Linked DNA regions of Homo sapiens: region 1 is linked to region 2. Evidence: fine-mapped expression QTL. Tissue or cell type: sigmoid colon. Region 2 holds a variant in brackets; the other region holds the start of a gene. All regions are shown on one strand. Distances are from middle to middle.

The links. PIP is the estimated chance that this variant, and not a neighbour inherited with it, causes the effect.
Region 1: it holds the start of B3GAT1, and the variant in region 2 is fine-mapped to the expression of B3GAT1 in sigmoid colon (GTEx, PIP above 0.99).

The regions. Positions count from the first base shown.
Region 1 is chr11:134,409,124-134,417,297 of GRCh38, reverse strand. It overlaps B3GAT1 (beta-1,3-glucuronyltransferase 1), which reads left to right and starts at 5,056. Exons shown (of 6, transcript NM_054025.3): 1 at 5,056-5,491. RefSeq lists an enhancer at 5,908-6,467.
Region 2 is chr11:134,370,907-134,379,080 of GRCh38, reverse strand. GLB1L2 (galactosidase beta 1 like 2) reads right to left here. Exons shown (of 19, transcript NM_001370461.1): 13 at 7,933-8,073; 14 at 7,589-7,660; 15 at 7,251-7,329; 16 at 5,273-5,360; 17 at 4,825-4,936; 18 at 4,363-4,479; 19 at 2,757-4,109. The coding sequence ends at 4,023. B3GAT1 (beta-1,3-glucuronyltransferase 1) reads left to right here. Exons shown (of 6, transcript NM_054025.3): 6 at 1-573. It overlaps LOC124902798 (a long non-coding RNA gene), which reads right to left and starts at 2,285. Exons shown (of 2, transcript XR_007062961.1): 1 at 1,827-2,285; 2 at 740-1,017. RefSeq lists an enhancer at 1,721-2,620. The variant T/G (reference allele first, on the strand shown) is at 4,653.

The DNA.
Region 1 (8,174 bases), 38 kb before region 2:
CGGAGCTGCTCAGAATTTTGATGAATGAATAAATGGAATCAGCACATCCATGTGGCAGGACTCCTAGCACCTTTTTTCTTTCTTCCAAATCCCAAAAGGAAAGGGTAAGGAGTCCTTTCTGCAGATGCTCTACTAATACCCAAAGGTCTAGGATGTCTGCCCATCACCCAAGCCACGGAGGGGAGTTTGGGCAGGAAATTAGACGACTCCATCCATCATATTTATTGAACAGCCACTCTCTGGAAGACGCTAGTGCAGGAGGTCACTCACGCACATGAATCCTCAAACTCCAAGCAGAGAGTGTCCTTTCCGCTCCCCATGGCTCTCTCCTCTCTCTCCACTCTCCAGCCTCACCTGCTGCACGTGTTCCTCAAGCACACCAAGCCTCCCGCAAACCCCTCAGGTCGCCTATCGCTGTCCTCCTTGCTGGGCCAATATTCCCCCGGGTTTTGGCTCAAACATGGCCTCTTCAAAGAGCCTCTCCCTGATCCTACCCTCCCAGGACTCTCTCCAGCTCTTGACCCTATTTCTTCCCTTCCTGTATCTCCTCCACCTCTGTTTGTTCTGTGCATTTGCCCATCTATGGACCACTAGCATATAATCCCTGAGTTGTGCTCTGACGATGAGCCTGAGTCCTGGAACTAGGCTGCCTGCCTCAAATGCTGGCTATGTCACTTACTAGGCATGTGACCTTAATTAAATTACCTAAATACTACGCCCCAGATTCCTGACCTATAAATGGAAACTATAATCGAAACTTGTCACAAACAGTACCTTGTAAATAACACCTTACATATGAAATTAGCTAACGTGCATGAAGACTTGGAACCTAACCTGGTGCATACATATAAATGGCCTAATTGAAGTTAACACTCCTAATTGCTGTTGTTTACTGCATGTCTCTGGTGCCCAGCACAGTGCCTGGCATATGACTGGAGCTCAGTAAATATTAGCTGAACACAGGAAAGCATGCACAGATGGGTAAGAGCCTCCAGATGTGTCCGGATAAAGTGCTATGGGACTGAGGGGAAGAGCAGTTCACTGCCAGAGGTGCCTGAGGGTCGGGAGGGCTATAGGAGACAGCACAAGCCACAGAGCTCAGGTTGGGAAAGGCTTCAGTGAGACTTTGGAGGTGTGGGCTCTGCAGAGTAGTTAGGGGATAGTGGGGAGGTCAAAAGGCAATCTGGGTTATTTTCACTTCTGCAAGAGGACAAAGAACGGTCCCAGGTTAGCCTCAGAGATGCTCCCCTAAGTCTGAGGGCTCTGCTCCTATCACCTCTCATCCCTCCCTCAGCCACAGAGGAAAGAAGGCAAAACAAAATGACATGACTGAAGTGTTCTAAAGCCATGTAACTGCACCCTTTCCCTGGAGGCAGAGACTGGAGAGAAGCAGGAGTCAGCCTTTTTGCACCAGCTCAGGAAAGATGCCGGCCTGGCTTCTGAGAAGAGAGGAGGGCAGAGGGAAACCTGTTGACCACATGACCATTTTCAATTTTTTATGGACAAACAAGGGTGTTCAAGATCCAAAGCTCAGACCAGAAACCTAATGAAAGGGAAGAGTTAAAAGGTCTCCTCCTCTTTCTGTATCTGGGCCATGAACTCCACCACCCAAAACAGCACATCCACACACATCCGTCCAGGAGCCACTGTGGGAACAGTTCAGACACGCCTGATAGCATGGCTGGGTCCCTGGGGAGCTCACCCTGCCTGCCGAGGCAGAGGGCAGCTCTTCCTCCTCTCACTCCCCCTGCTCTCTGGCAGCATCTGGGTGTGCCCATGCATGTGCATGTGCTGTCACCCTTGCCAGGGCAATGACGGGAGAGGACGGGCACCTTGTGGGGTGGGATTCCTCACTGAAGAATCCCACTGGGACCTTTCCACTCACATCAGCAAAATCACTGCTATAGATTCCTGGTGAAGGCAAGGGGAGATTGGATGGCCCCCAACAATCAGACTGGCTAAGACGGGTGGGGTGAGGGCCTGGGCCCCACAGGCCAGGGCGGCAAGCAGCGCAGCTGCGTTGCCTCTCTTGGGTGGTAGCTAAGAAGGACGGCACGGCTGAAAAGGCAGTATCATTAGGAGTCTGGAGCAGACCAAAACTCCTGCTGAAAGAGAGGCCAGGGCAGACAGAACCCACGAGGGGAACAATTAACTGATAAGAGTAAACTAATTGTTATTCATATTAAATTAGGGCACAGGTGATTTGGAGAAAACCTACAGACCATCCCAGATGTTTTGCAGGTTTTGCATTGCAGATGACGGTTTTACAGGACTCTTCTGGGATTCAGATTATGGGAAGTGGGCCAGGATCAGAGCGGGGGCAGGGCTCCCGTCCTGCTTAACTACACAATAAACACATAACGGTTTGTCCCAGAGGACAAACCCGGGCTTTGCATACTAAACATGCTGGTGCTAGGCTTTGGGGGCCTCTGAGAAGAGGGGCTCACTACTGGCAGGGAAGGCAGGGGGAGGGGAAGATCAATCATTCAGGGAGACCTTAGAGGTGCTCCAGATGTTTGGAGCAAGGGTCAAGCTGTGAGGATGCACCAAGTCCAGACATGGGAGGGAAGGATTTCCACAGTCCTGCAGAGGCCAAGCAGGAAGACAGGGGTGGGAGTGTGGCTGACCCGGGGGATGGTGTGTGTACACGTGTGTCTGTGTGGGTGCAGGTGCTTCAGGTACATCCGTGTGCAAGCGTTTACATGTGCACATGATGTATTTCAGAGTGTGTGTGTGTGTTCATGTGGGTGAATCTGCATGTGTAGCTGCCTCTATGAGCATGTTTTGTGCCTGCGTAGATGTCAGTACATTTGTGTGTGTCCATACACTTGGGATGTTGCCAAAACTTCCCACCAAAACGAATGGCAGGCTGTTGTCTCTTCACTGAGCCTTATCATGCTAATTTTAATCTCCTATTATTGTTTTAAATTGGCTCTAAAAATTAATACTAAAAATTCTGTAAACAGAGCCTGGAACTAAGATGCAAGACAGGTCCCTTGAAAGCGGCTTTATTATCACAATTGTTCCTGCCAGAATGCTGAGGTAAAGCCGAGAACCCCTGCAGACAGCATCTCCGAGCCACAGCCCAGCAGGACAAGTCGGACCACAGCCCACTTAGTCCAACCCTCTGTTTCATTACTGAAACCAGCCCTGAGGGGAAGTCTTTTGCTAGTGCCTTCAGAATCGGCCTGAAACCCAGGCCTCCTCGTCGCCATGTCCCTGAGCTCTCTTGAGATCACCCCTCATGGGTGTGTTTCCCTGTTGGTAAAATGAGGGTCTGGAACGAGACAGTCTTCACGGTCATTTCTGTCCTCCCATTTGGTGATTGTGTGACTGCGGCTGGCTGGCTTAGCAGAGGAGGGAGGCAATGTGCCCTCCTGGACGGCCTGGCCCCTCCTTGGTGCTCTCTGGTACCCCCGCCCATCCTGCTTCTGCACCTGCCCTTCCCCTCCCTTCAGCTGGTGTGGAGTCTAAGGAGAAGCAGAGTATGGAGACTAGGAAAATACCAGAGAACACCGACTTAGGAAAGGTCTCTTAGCAGAGTCTAAAAGAGAGGGTTGTAGTAGGGGCAGAAGAAGGCGGAGCAAGGCTGGCTGGGATTCCACTCATTAAGAGAAGGGGGAAATGCTCCTGTACCGCAGCAGGAGGTACTGAGGTTAGATTCAGAGGAAGTTTCTTGCCGGCAAAGGGGGCTGTTAAGCACAACAATGAAAGAGCGCACGACAAGGAGGAGCAGTTATCCCTAGAGATAGTCACTAAGGACACTTTCACATGTCTGTGGCATGATACGGACGGTGAGGTGCCTTCCTCCCCTCAAAATCTTGACCAAAGGGGCTGATTCTGGAGTCTCTGCCCCCTCCCCACCTGCACATCCTCAGTGGGAAGAGCAGGGCCCGGCTTGGTCCTAACAGGGCAGGAAAGCTGATGGAAAAGAGGCCCGTGGTCCTCAGCCCCAGCCCATAGCACGGGGGCACAGCTCTGGTTAAGCAGTGCCTAGCAGTGGGGCTGGAACTGGTTTCCCGGGAAGGAGGGAGACCCTAGAGAAAGTACCGACAGTCCCTGGTCCCGCCGCGAACCCCGCCATGGGAGGTGGCCTTCTCCTGGGGCTGTGAAGAGGACACAGCGGGTGTGGCCCGAATACAGGTGTCCAAGAGCACCGGGAGATGCCAACCTCTAAAACGAGTGCAAGGATGGCTTCAAAGTCTCCGACAAGCTGAAGGAGTATCTGGAATATACAGCTCCACAGAGGCACCCTACCAGTGCACCCACATACGTCCAAGTGCGCGCCCACTCACTGGCCTCCGTCCCCCGCCGACCAACACACCGCGGCAGAGGCCCGGGAAACTCCTGGAGATCCCGCTGCCCCCGGCCTCCCCGCGCCCGTCCGCCCACGCAGGCCTCCCGGGCCTCTCTCCGGAACGCCGGGTGCACCGGCCCGGAAGGGGAGGCTGGGGTGAGGCTGACGCGCGGCGGCTCGAGGTGCCCTTCCACGGGGCAGCAGACCCCGTACCCCGGCACGGCACCGTCCGCCCCCACCGGCCACCTCCCATCCGGGGTGCCTGGAGCCAAGGAAGGAGCCGCATCCCCCACCGGCTTCCCAGCTCGGCCTCTCGGTCCCAGAGCGCCGCCCCCCGCCCTCCTGCAGCAGCCCGGCCGGAAACAATCACCCTTTGAGAGAGGCTGCCAAGCTGGGCGCCAGGAGCAGCCAGGATGGAGGCGGGGTGGAATGGGGGTGCAGGCGGGGGCCGAGCTTTAACTCTCGAGAGCCGAGATCTGGGGGTGCGCTCGGCCCCTGCCCGCCACCCCTGCTCCGCCGCCTGAAGCGGGAGCCGCCTCCGCGGGGGACGGTGCCGGGGGAGGGTGGGGGGCGGTGGGGAGGTGATACCAATCCCGGGGGGGGGTCCCCTCGCCGGCCTCCCTCCTCGCGCCCCCGCCTAGGCTGGCGAGGTTGGTACCGACCATTAGCAGCTCGGGTCCCGCCGGCGCTGGCGCGGGCTCGGGGCGGGGGCGGGGCGGGGGCGGAGAGCGGGTGGGGGCGGGGCGGGAGGCGCCGGCAGAGCCGCGGCGGCACCGGCGCATCCGCCGCCACCTCGGGGACTCTGCGCCGGCCCGGTCGGCTCGGCTCCGGCCGCGCGCCCCCCTCGCCCCTCTCGCCCCCGCGCCCGCTCCCCGCTCCCCCTCCCCGCTCCCCCTCCCCGCCCCCCGCCCCCCGCCTCCCTGCCCGCGCCCTCCCTCCCGCGCGCTCCCAGCCTTCGGCCGCCGCCTCGCTGAGCCCAGAACGAGCCGGGCCGGGGCGGCGGGGCCGGGCGGGGCGGGCGGGCGCGCGGACCCCGCGGCTATGAAGTGGCCCCCGGGGGCCCGGAGCCCGACAGTCCCCGGGGAGGGAGCCGCACGCGGCCCAGGGCAGCGGTCTAGGGGCGCCGGGGCCGGGGCGTAGGGGCCGTTGCCCGCGATGGACCGCACCGGAGACGCTCCGGACTCGTCGCCGCAGGTCAGTGCTCCCCGCGCCCCCGCGGGCGCCCCGCCGCGCACAGAGCCCCTTTCTGCGTCCCCATCGGTGCCCACGCCATGTCCTCCCGGGCGCGCGCTGGGGTGTGTGTGTGTGTGTGTGTGTGTGTGTGTGTGTGCGCTGCGCGCGCTGGGGGCAGCTGGAAAGGGGGCCGAGAACCGAGCTCGGGCTGGGAGGCGCTGCTGCCGAGGGGCTGCGAAACAAAACCCGGCACAGCCTGCCCTCGTCGACCGGGATTAGGGGAAGAGCTGGTTCTCAGCAGCTTCTAACAATCGGCCCGGGCTCTCAGTCGTCAGTTCCCGGCCCCCTCAGCAGGTGGTTTCTGGTGGCCGGATGAGGAGTCAGGGGTCAGTCGTCCCCCACCTCCCCACCCCTGCTGCCCAACAGCGCTCTCTGGATCGCTCTCTGGCTCCTGGGCACTGCCAAGTTAACTCTCTTGAGGGGGCCCGAGCTCTGCGGGGCGCGCTGAGGGACCCAGGGGTAGCAAGGGTGGCAAAGGGCCCTTGGGACCTTCGGTGTAGCAAGGAGGAAGGAGGCGCGACCAGTTCACCACCCTCCCATCTGCACCTGGGCTCAGGTCTGAGGTCCCAATCCCTCCAAAGTCAGAGCACACAACTTCCAGAAAAAGGAGGCTGAGAGTTGAGGCAGGAAATAGAGAAGGAAGCCACCAGGTCCGACAGTGCCAGGGTAAGGAGGTGACAGCCCCGTACCAAGCAGCTAAGGTCAAGAACCACCCCCACATGCACACACATGGGAGCCTTGGCCAACTTCCCTGTCCCCTTCCTCCCCCAGCCAGGCCTAGCTGCATGGATTCTTGTAGAAGCTGGAGCTGAAGGACTCTGGACATACAGGAAGGGGACCTTTACTGACAGTTGCTAGCCCAGTGCATGGGCACCTGCATAGGTGGGGTGCCCAATGGGGCCTAGAGCTTGGGCTGTGTAGCACGCACTGTTGAAAATGTTGGGGTACGGATGTCGTAGGGCCTAGCACTGTGCAATGCCTGGATGTGTTTGTGTGGAAATGGGAGGCACATCACTCCCTAAGTTACTAGGGCTGTGGGGCATGTGGCTGCACAGGACTGTTGTTCTAGGGTTTTCTAAGATTTGTCTTCTGTGCTTATGTCGCCCTACCTCTGCTGGTAGCCACTGCAGAGACTGAGACATTTCCTCCCAGAGTCTGCTCAGTTGGTGACCATTAATGGCCTTACTGGACCAAACATCAAGCCTTCCCTTTCTTCCCATGGGGTGAAGACCCTTTCCCAGGGTCTTCAGACAGACTTCTCACTCTGCCCAGTCCATGCCCAGCACTGCCAAAGGTTCCAGAGCTTAGAGACATTTTCCCTCTTCCCCTTTTCATGGAAGCAGAAATACTTGCTAAGGTTAATGGGACTGGGAGAGTTAATGCATCTGTGCCCCATTCAGCACTGGAGCCAGGAGCTCGCTGTTCCTGTTTCTGTGCCTGACCCCAGGATGCTTGGGGATCACTCCAGGTCCAGGTGAGCTGGAAGCTTGCAGGCGCTGTGTTGAATATGTGTGTGTAGGTTTCTGGTTGGGCAGTTACTCACTGTTCCACCAGAAGCAGGGGGCAGGTAAATCACTGAGGAGATAAGCTCCAGCAACAGGATTGGAGCCCGTGGCGGAGACCAAGGAGCTTCACAGGAGGATGCCCTGGGGCAAGCCCAGTTCCTCAGCTTCGGCTTCTGGGGAGACCTGAAGGTTCTCTTAGTGGTTTCTCGGGGATAAGGGGACCAAGTCAGATATACTTTTCCTAGGTGTGGAGCACAGGGTGATGAGGCCGGCCAGGAGCTGGGAGTGTGAGATGGGGAAGAGGATGCACCAACCGAAAGGCTGAGCGGACAGGAGCATGGTGCTCCATTGTTTCTGGAAGAGAGGGATGAGTGTTCCTCTCTGATGAGAATGGAGAGGAGGAGAGGAACGGGCTCAGGAGGAGGAGGAATCCGAGAGAGAGCCTGACTGAGGCAGAGAAAGAGGCAGTGAGACAAGAGACAAAGGCACGGAGGCGCACTGGCGGACAGCAGAGGGAGGCACACAGGCAGAAGTCAGGGCCTCCCTGACTGAGTGGTGAGTTGGGGCAGGCTGGGGGCCTCCCCCTGTTCCCCTACATCGACCTCAGCAATTGTCCACCCCTGCAGGAGGCCCCTCACTAGAGCAGTTGGACATTCTACTGAGGAAGGTGCTTTCCTGTGGCTCTCAGGAATGTGAGGGTCTTTTAGACAGAAGCCCAAAGGCAGAGGGAGGCCAGGCTATGAGGTCAAGCACATCAAGAGCTTGCAGGGACTTTCAGGGACACCCTTCACCCCTGAGCATCTCACAATGCTGAGGGCTCCTCTCCATCTTCTGGCCCTGCCCCAGCCCTCCTGGTCCTGGAATGCAGGGCAGTGGGGAAGGATGTGGGGTCTGGGGAAACCTGGCACTCAGGAGAAGAAGAGAAGTCATGCACCCCCTCCCCAGGCCCCCAGGCAAAAAGACCTTTGGGGACCCTACTGAAGACTAGCCAGGGGACATGGAAGAAGTGCAGTGGGGACAGGCCCTTGGCCAGGCTGTCTGAGGTCCAGTCTCATCTCCATCTGTGGCTAGCCGAGTAGACTTTGAAAAAAACAGAGCTCTCTAAGCCCCGGCTTCCTGGCAGTCTATAAATTGGGAAA
Region 2 (8,174 bases):
CCCTGGATGTCACTTTGGAAACCAAGCCCTTGGAAGCAAGTGGGGTGGCATGGGAGAGAAGGGAGGAGGTGGGCACAGGTGGTGAGCTTATGTGTGGGCACTCTACTGCCTCACAGAAGCCAGCCAAGTGCCAAGGTCAGCTTGGCTGGTCTGAGGCCACCTTCTTAGCCAAAAACCTAGGGTTCATTTTCAGGACTTTGATAATGAACAACAAAATGGGGACTTCTTTGGGCAGATGCTAGGTCAGTTGTTTTCACCTAATATCCTCTTTTAGCTGCATGTATATTTATTTATAATTATAACCCTGGTGGACTGCAGCCTTCATCTTTATTGGGAATGAGTTTGTTATAAATCAGAAATGGGTCCATGATGACCACTGTTTTCCAAACCCAGTCTGTTCCCTGCTCCCTCGCTGGCAAGCCCCACCACACAGGAGTGAGGCCAGGGGCTAGGAGTTCTAAGAACAGAGGCTGGGGTGAGGGTGGCACCCAGGCAGCTGCATCTGGTCTGTTTTAATTTAACTGTATTTAATTTGCTTTCAAAATTAAAAGTCAAATACAGTTTTTAACAGTCCTAATCCTCTTCAGCCCTGCCTTATTTTGTTCTCATTTATTAATTTAGCTACCCAACAAGTATGTATCAGGTGCCTGTTATGAACAGGCATCATTCTAGGAGCCGACACACAGCAGTGAGAAAACAAGGCTCTCATTTTCAAAGAACTGACCCACTGACGAGAGGAGACAGGCAATAACGAATGCATATTATTTCAGATGCAATCTGTTGTATGGAGGATGAGGGTGAGTCGGGGAGACAGAGGTAGCAGTGGAGAGGGTCAGTGCTCTGTAGGGTGACCACAGAGGCCTCCGTGATAAGTGACCCTTGAGCGAAGCAGCAACACCCTGACATGCAGCTCCCCGGGCCCAAGAAGAACGAACTCTCCACCAGGCGGAACAAGCGTTGCTCAGCCTGCTTACAGATCAGCAGGAAGGCCATCGGGCTCAACTGACGGGGCGGGGGCTGCTGGGGGCAACAGCAGTGAGGGATGTGGTGGGCGTGGGAGAAGGGAGTCCCCAGGCACCGGGTGAAACCAGAAGGCAATAGGGGGTCCAGTACGGAGGACTAACATAATCTATCCATCTCTAAGAAGAACTGCCCTGCTCCTCCACGGAGGATAAATGGAGAGGGCAAGGGCAGGTGGAGACGTGGCTCCTGGAATCATCCAGGCCAAGATGCAGTGGGCTGAGTGGGGGCATGGGGTTGGGGCAGAGAGAAGCAGTCAAATTTTGGCCAAGTTTAGGAGGCAGAGCCAGGAGGATCTGCTGCTGGATTGGATGTGGGAGATAAAGAGAGGGGTCCAAAATAGCCCGAGACACAGAACAGCACTGCCATTTCCAGATACAGGGCTGCGTGCAGGAGGGGTAATGTGGGGAAATGGAGCTCTGTGTCAGGTGCCTGTTAGACACATGCAGAAGAAAATGCGCCCCCACACACCTGGAGCTCAGGTGCAGCCCAGCATCGGCGGGCGCGGGTGTCCAACCTGTTTACAAACCACAGGTGCACGGGTGAGACCCTATGCAGTGAGTGTGGACAGAGGAAAGAAACAGCCCAAGGAGTGGGCCAGAGACCCCCAGCATTCAGAGGCTGGATATGAAGAGGGATTCTCCAAAGAGACCTAGATGAGGCCATACCGTGTGGAAGATAATGGAAACATCTTTAGTCAACGCTGGAGAATAAGCTCTGCCAAGAGGTACTTTGATAGAGAAGCTGAGCAATTAACTGGCAGAAAATAAGGGTGAGAATAAGAAGCTGGTGTAGGAAGACCTCACCTTAGGAAACCACAGTGTGTCCTGCTCAGGTCTGCGTGGAAGTGTGATCCAAGGGGCTTCTCCACCTTACAGGAGGATTTGCAGGAAGGTTCCCTTCCATTCCATCACTTTCTGACGGAACCAGCTCATACACAGCTCTGCAGAAGCACACACTCAGGTAAAGCGGGGCAGAAGACCCTGCAGGTGGCTCAGGCCACACCCAAGTAGCCCGAGTCTCATCCACATCTTAGCCCCATGCTTGTCGTTCCGAGGCAGTTCCAGAAGAACTGGTGAGTTTGGGCAAAACCAGGGACTCTGCCCCATGTTGTTCCCAAGCCACTGTCCACAAGCTTTCCTTTAATAAGCTCCATTTAATAAGCCCTTGACCCGGCTCAGCTGCTGGGCTGCACACCACGAATGTCCCCTGCACTCCCCCTGGGCAGCCACACACGGGCAGCAAGCCTGCTGGCCTCAGTGAGCTCCACGGCTCACCATCCCCCAGCCCACCTTCACGGGGCTCCCAGAGCTCTCGCTGTGCCGGGGATGTGTGTGCTACTTGACTTTCTGACTCTTACTGGAGATAATTTGGTTTTGGCAGTAGATGCCAGATGTAGTTTGTGAAGCAAAACTCAACCCCGCAGTTAACTCATATGGAGCGCCCTTGACTGCCTGGCAGATTCTTACCCCCGCCCACCAGCATGAGAATGAATTTGCATTTGAACTGTCCTCTCCAGGGCACTTCCAATCCAGAGACATTTGAAGGGAAGTCGGGGTCAGGAGGGGAATATGAGGCCAGGATCATGGCCCACCCACCCCAGGGACGGTCCCCATCTGGACCCCCAGGCGGCAAGTGGGGCCCAATGGGAACCTGACCAAGAAAACCAAGCTCTCAGACAGCCTTCCCTTCTGGCAAGAGTGGCACACATGACCAGAGACTATCACCAGAGGGGGTGTGATTCAAGGTTATAGCTTTACTGCAACTCAGGACAGTGAGCCCAAGCCAGGTGTTGGGCTGGGCCCCAGAACAAGGCTCAAATGCGGACTTGGACACACTTCGAAGGAGGGCTGCTCTGCCCCTGCTGTTCGGGCGTGGGGGGTGGGGGGCGGGGGCCACTGAGCTGGGCCTTCTGTCCTCCTCCCTGGATGTGCAGACATGGGCCATGGCTTCTGCCAGGACTCACATGTGAGCTGGGCCTTCTGTCCTCCTCCCTGGATGTGCAGACATGGGCCATGGCTTCTGCCAGGACTCACATGTGAGCTGGGCCTTCTGTCCTCCTCCCTGGATGTGCAGACATGGGCCATGGCTTCTGCCAGGACTCACATGTGAGCTGGGCCTTCTGTCCTCCTCCCTGGATGTGCAGACATGGGCCATGGCTTCTGCCAGGACTCACATGTGAGCTGGGCCTTCTGTCCTCCTCCCTGGATGTGCAGACATGGGCCATGGCTTCTGCCAGGACTCACATGTGAGCTGGGCCTTCTGTCCTCCTCCCTGGATGTGCAGACATGGGCCATGGCTTCTGCCAGGACTCACATGTCCTCCTCACTGAACACCAGAGACACCTGCTAACTTGGGAAGACGCAGGGTGAGGATTTCTGTTTCTCCAGCCCAGCCTGTCACCCTGTGGGAAGCAGCGAGTGGGAAGGGAAAGGGGAAGTCACATGTTTCTCACGCCGAGTTCCTTCCAGAATCCCAAAGAAGGCTCAGAAGGTTGTGAAGGAAGAACAAAGTCAGCTCAGGTGAGACACCCCTTCCCCACCCTCTACACTGGTGACACACCCAGGATTTCGGGGATAAAATGGGGCCATGAGGGATGTGGCCAAGCCTCCCAGGAACCAGCAAAGAGCACGCCTGAGTCCAGCAGATGCTCGCAGGGCTGTGACGTCCAGTGCAAGGGCACGTTTCAGCACTTTTTCTGAGGGCCAAAGGCTGGGCGATCTGATTAGCTGCTCCCACCCTAGAGACAGCCCGACAGCCTCGGCACAAGAGCAGGGCTGTAGGAAAGCCATCATCAACAAAGCCAGGCCCAGAGCCATCCCACCTTTCCCTGCAGGCTTAGGGTTTTGAGCTGAGACAGGGGCAGACTGTAGCCCCCAGTCCCTGAGGTTGCTACTTAAGGAGATGCTTTTGCAGTGAGGGGTGGGGCAGCAGCCACCAGGCTTCAGGTCAAGAGGAGGCGGCAGTCTCCCACTGGCACCAGCAGGAGGGGGTGCCACCGCTCACTTAATGTACTGGTTCCTGCCCAGGTGGGGGGTTTCCGTGAACTGTAATGCAGGGCCCGCCATCGTCTCCTCAAAAACGATGACCTGTGGAGAGAGGGCCCGGCTGGGAGGGCAGCTGACGTCTGTCCTGGAGCCAGGGGAGGTGCTGAGAGGTGGCAGGGTCAGAAGGAAAGGGTTTGGGAACCAGGCTGGAAGGGACAGGGACCAACAACTCGTCTGCAGCGAGGAGGAGGGAGGAAGAACCCGCTGACACGCCCCTCCACCCTGACCGAAGGCTCCCTGGGACGGCAGGTGGGCAGGGCGTCATGGGGAACAGGAAGGGGCTGGAAGCTCCCACCTGGTTGATTCCGCTGCTCAACCAGGGACCTGGGAGGTAAAGCGTCTTCTGGGGTCCAATGTTCCAGTAACGTCCAAGGTTCTGGCCATTGATGAATACAACCCCCTTCTCCCAGCCCTTGAAACAGAGGGGAAGGGTGTTCATCTACCACGAGAGCCACAGCAAAAGTGGAGGGAGACATGCATGCGTGCTTCTCTCAGGTCCAGGAGACCAAAGCGAGCTGTGTCTGGACAGCCATGAGGGTGGGCAGGTGGGATGCTCTATTTCCTGTCCCCCTAGTGCATGAGGTG[T/G]TTCTTCTGCTGGGAACCCACTCCTCTGGCCCAGGGAGGCCCCAGCGGCCCTCTCAGACCCTCTGGGCACAGAAGCCACCAACGACTCTCGCCAAGCTCGTGGCTTTGGCTCAGAGCCCTCCAAGGCGGGAGGCAGGTGGGAGAAACTGGCAGGGAAAAGGGCGTTACCAACCTCCAGCTTCAGAAAGGTGTCACAAGGGGTGGAGCTGATGGACAAGCTACCCAAGAAGAAAGCAGGTAATGTGGGTGTTTCTGGGAGGGAACTCCATTTGTCCAGGCCGAACCTAAGGACAGAACACAGAGAAGGAGAGGGAGGAGGCCCTTCTCAATCCACCAGCACAATAAAGCAAAATAAAAGGCCCTGACACCGTTTCCCCATCCAAGGCCCCCCGCCTCTTAACCAGGACACAGAATGGCAGCACGGTAGGATGCTGGGAATTCCTAGTCTGCAAATGCGGCTTCTAGTGCGGGTGCCACCCCTCACCTCGGCCAGCCGATCTGGCCCCTGGAGGCGTTCACACCTGGGTGCGGGCCAGGCCACGGTGCACCAGGGACCCCTGGGCCCCACCACACAGCACTATACCTGTGAGTGCAAGGGCTGGTGCTGGGCAGGGACCCACCTCTGAAAGAAGCTCTTCTTCATATCCAGGCTATAGATTCTGAAGTTTTTCAGGGGTGAATCATTCAGATAGAGATTTCCAATTAAGCCTGTGGGAGGGAGGCAGGACACGTGGGTAGCCCAAAGGCAGGGGCCGAGTCAGCTGGGCCGGGGCCACGAGGGGAAGCCCTGGGAAGCTGGGGTGAGGGGTGCTGAAGTGTACGCTCCCTGAGAAGCTGGGGTGAGGGGTACTGAAGTGTACGCTCCCTGGGAAGCCGTTCGCTTGCAAGCAAAGCTCCCTAGCAATTCTGTGGGGGACGGGAAGGAGGAAGACCCTAAGATTTGCCATGGGAAGGATATAGAGCTGAGGTGTTACAGGGCGAGAACAACCTCTGGCCTCTCTCTGAAGGAAGTTCCAGATGACCGAGAGGGTTCTGGCCTAGCTGCAGGGCCAGTTTCAGTGGGGCCCAAGCTACACAGACCTAATAACTCAGCCAGAATCATCTCTGCCACCTAGGATTAAAGCTGTGCATTAGGAGTGTTTGGACTGTGAGCAGATGGCACCCTCCCTCGGGCATCCAACAGGGAAGAGATGTGTCCTCTTGAGGAGCCACTCATCAGTGTCCCGGGGCCGGGCCAGCCCTGCCAGTCTCAGATTACAGAGCTGCTGAGTGGCTAGCTTGGGAATTTGGAGGCCGAGGACTGTGGAGAGGCTTTGCAGGGCCTACAGACTCCGAAATGGCAGGTGCGGGTCTATGTGGGCACGCGCATTTCTCAAGGGAGGTCTGTGACTTATAAACATTGAACTGTGATCCAGAGGACAGGACTCCACAGTGTGGGCCCAGGGGACCCTCAACAAGGGCTCAGGGAAGCAAAGTTAGGAACAATGGTCAGGCTGGTGCTCCTTCCAACTCCCAGGAGAACAACAGAAGTGAGGACAGGCCCAGAGAGGGAGCTGTCTAGGGTAAAGGAGTGTGGGCCTGGGTGGTGCTAGATGCCGCTCTGAGGCCCATCTAGAAGGGCCCTGATCCCCAGGATCCAGGCCCCAGTGTCTGGGCCACGTGGCTTTCCTGGCAGGCCACCAGACGGCTCTCGGAGGAAATGTGGACCAATAAGAGCTCTTCAAGTTTCCTCCGTCACAAACGCAGACACCGTGAGAGAGCTGGGAGGTCACCGGTGCTGCTCACCACAGTCGCATTCATTTTGTTCTGAGTTCTTTTTTTATAACTTACCTGAAACCACCCACATTTAGCTAGATTTTTTTTAAAAAGGAAGGGCTAAATTTGGGCACGGTGGCGGGCGCCTGTAGTCCCAGCTACTCGGGAGGCTGAGGCAGGAGAATGGCATGAACCCGGGAGGTGGAGCATGCAGTGAGCCGAGATTGCACCACTGCAGTCTGGCCTGGGTGAAAGAGCGAGACTCCGTCTCAAAAAAAAAAAGGAAGGGCTAAATTAAAGCATAAAAGATTTAGTAGGCCAGGAAACATAAAGCAAATTGGCGGCCTATTCCCAGAGGGGTACGCTACCAACAGGTGTTTTGTTTGCTGTATGTCCCGCATCCTCCTCCCCCAACATCTGAGATAAGCTTTCCCAAGATGGATCAAGAAGAGAACTTCAGTGTGGAGGCCCAAGAAGGCAGGGGTCTTGTGCCTTTCCTTGGATTCCTGGAAATCACATTCATTGCTCCTCACTGCCGCCCCCCCAAGCAGACATCCTTGCAGAAACCGACTGCAGCCCAGGGGAGACAAGAGGCCAGCTCAGTGTTCACAGTGTTTATCACGAGCACGCAGACGATGCACGCGTGCAGTGCTAACAGGACAGGGGCCACAGCCCAGCGGAGTTTCTCTGGCCCACTCAGAACTGGCCTCATGTATGGGACAACCCAGCCTCCACCTCCCTGCAAGAGGCCTCCATGGCCTGGTGGCCTGCTAGCATAGAGAAGCAATAGCCACCTGTGTGTCCAGCATGGCCACTCTTCTTTTGACACATTCTGGGACCCACCTTTGCGCTGGTCATCAATATTCTCCCCATAGTTGACTCGCCCACGATTCTCCACCAAGATCCTCAGCACGGTGTAACCCTGCCGGGAACACGGGGCTAACGATGACTGTCAGAAGGCCACAGCTGCCCCTCAGAATTTGCTTGTGGACCCCAGTTCTTCCCTACGCTCTGGGGATGGGAGTGTACATCCCAGCTGGGCAGAAAGCCACACTCGCCCTCTCCACCTACAGCTTGTGGGTAAGGAGCCACGGGTCTCCCAGGTTTTCCTCAGTGACTGCCCCCAGACTTCCTCGAAGCAGCGGGGGCTAGCCATCACCCAGCTCCCAAAAACAACGAACCTGGATCAGGGGGACAGCAATCTTCGTTGTCTTGTAGTCCAAGAATCCTATGGATACTGTGTTCACAAACACCTGCCAAAGGGAACAGGCAGGAACATCCATGACCAACAGGAGGAGGGTAAGCGGGACCTCCTCCAGGCCAAGAAGGGCAGCACGCGTGCCTGTAGGCAGACGAGGGGCCAGTGGGCAGAGCAGACATGAATGCCCCCTGAAGGCTCACAGAGCTGACTCAGAAGGGCCATTGTCACACACTGGTAAGAGCTGATTCTGAGGGGAGGGCATGAGACGCCTATTGCAGAGCTGCTCACCAGAAGGTCACAGGAATTTAGAAGAGAAGCTCCTACCTGCCCCCGATCATGCACGTGGCCACTGAGGATGCCAGACGAGGTGATGCTGGTCTCATAGAGAATGTACCCGAAGGACTGTCCATTTCCCCCATTGACTGGCAGGTTCTCCATGTTGATGGGCTTTTCAGACTTGATTGGCTGCGTACAGAAGAGATGGAGGGGTGGGCAGGCTCAGGAGGAGTGGGGTCACAGACAGACTCTGCCTGGGGGCTGGCACATGGGGTGGAAGCGGAGGTTTG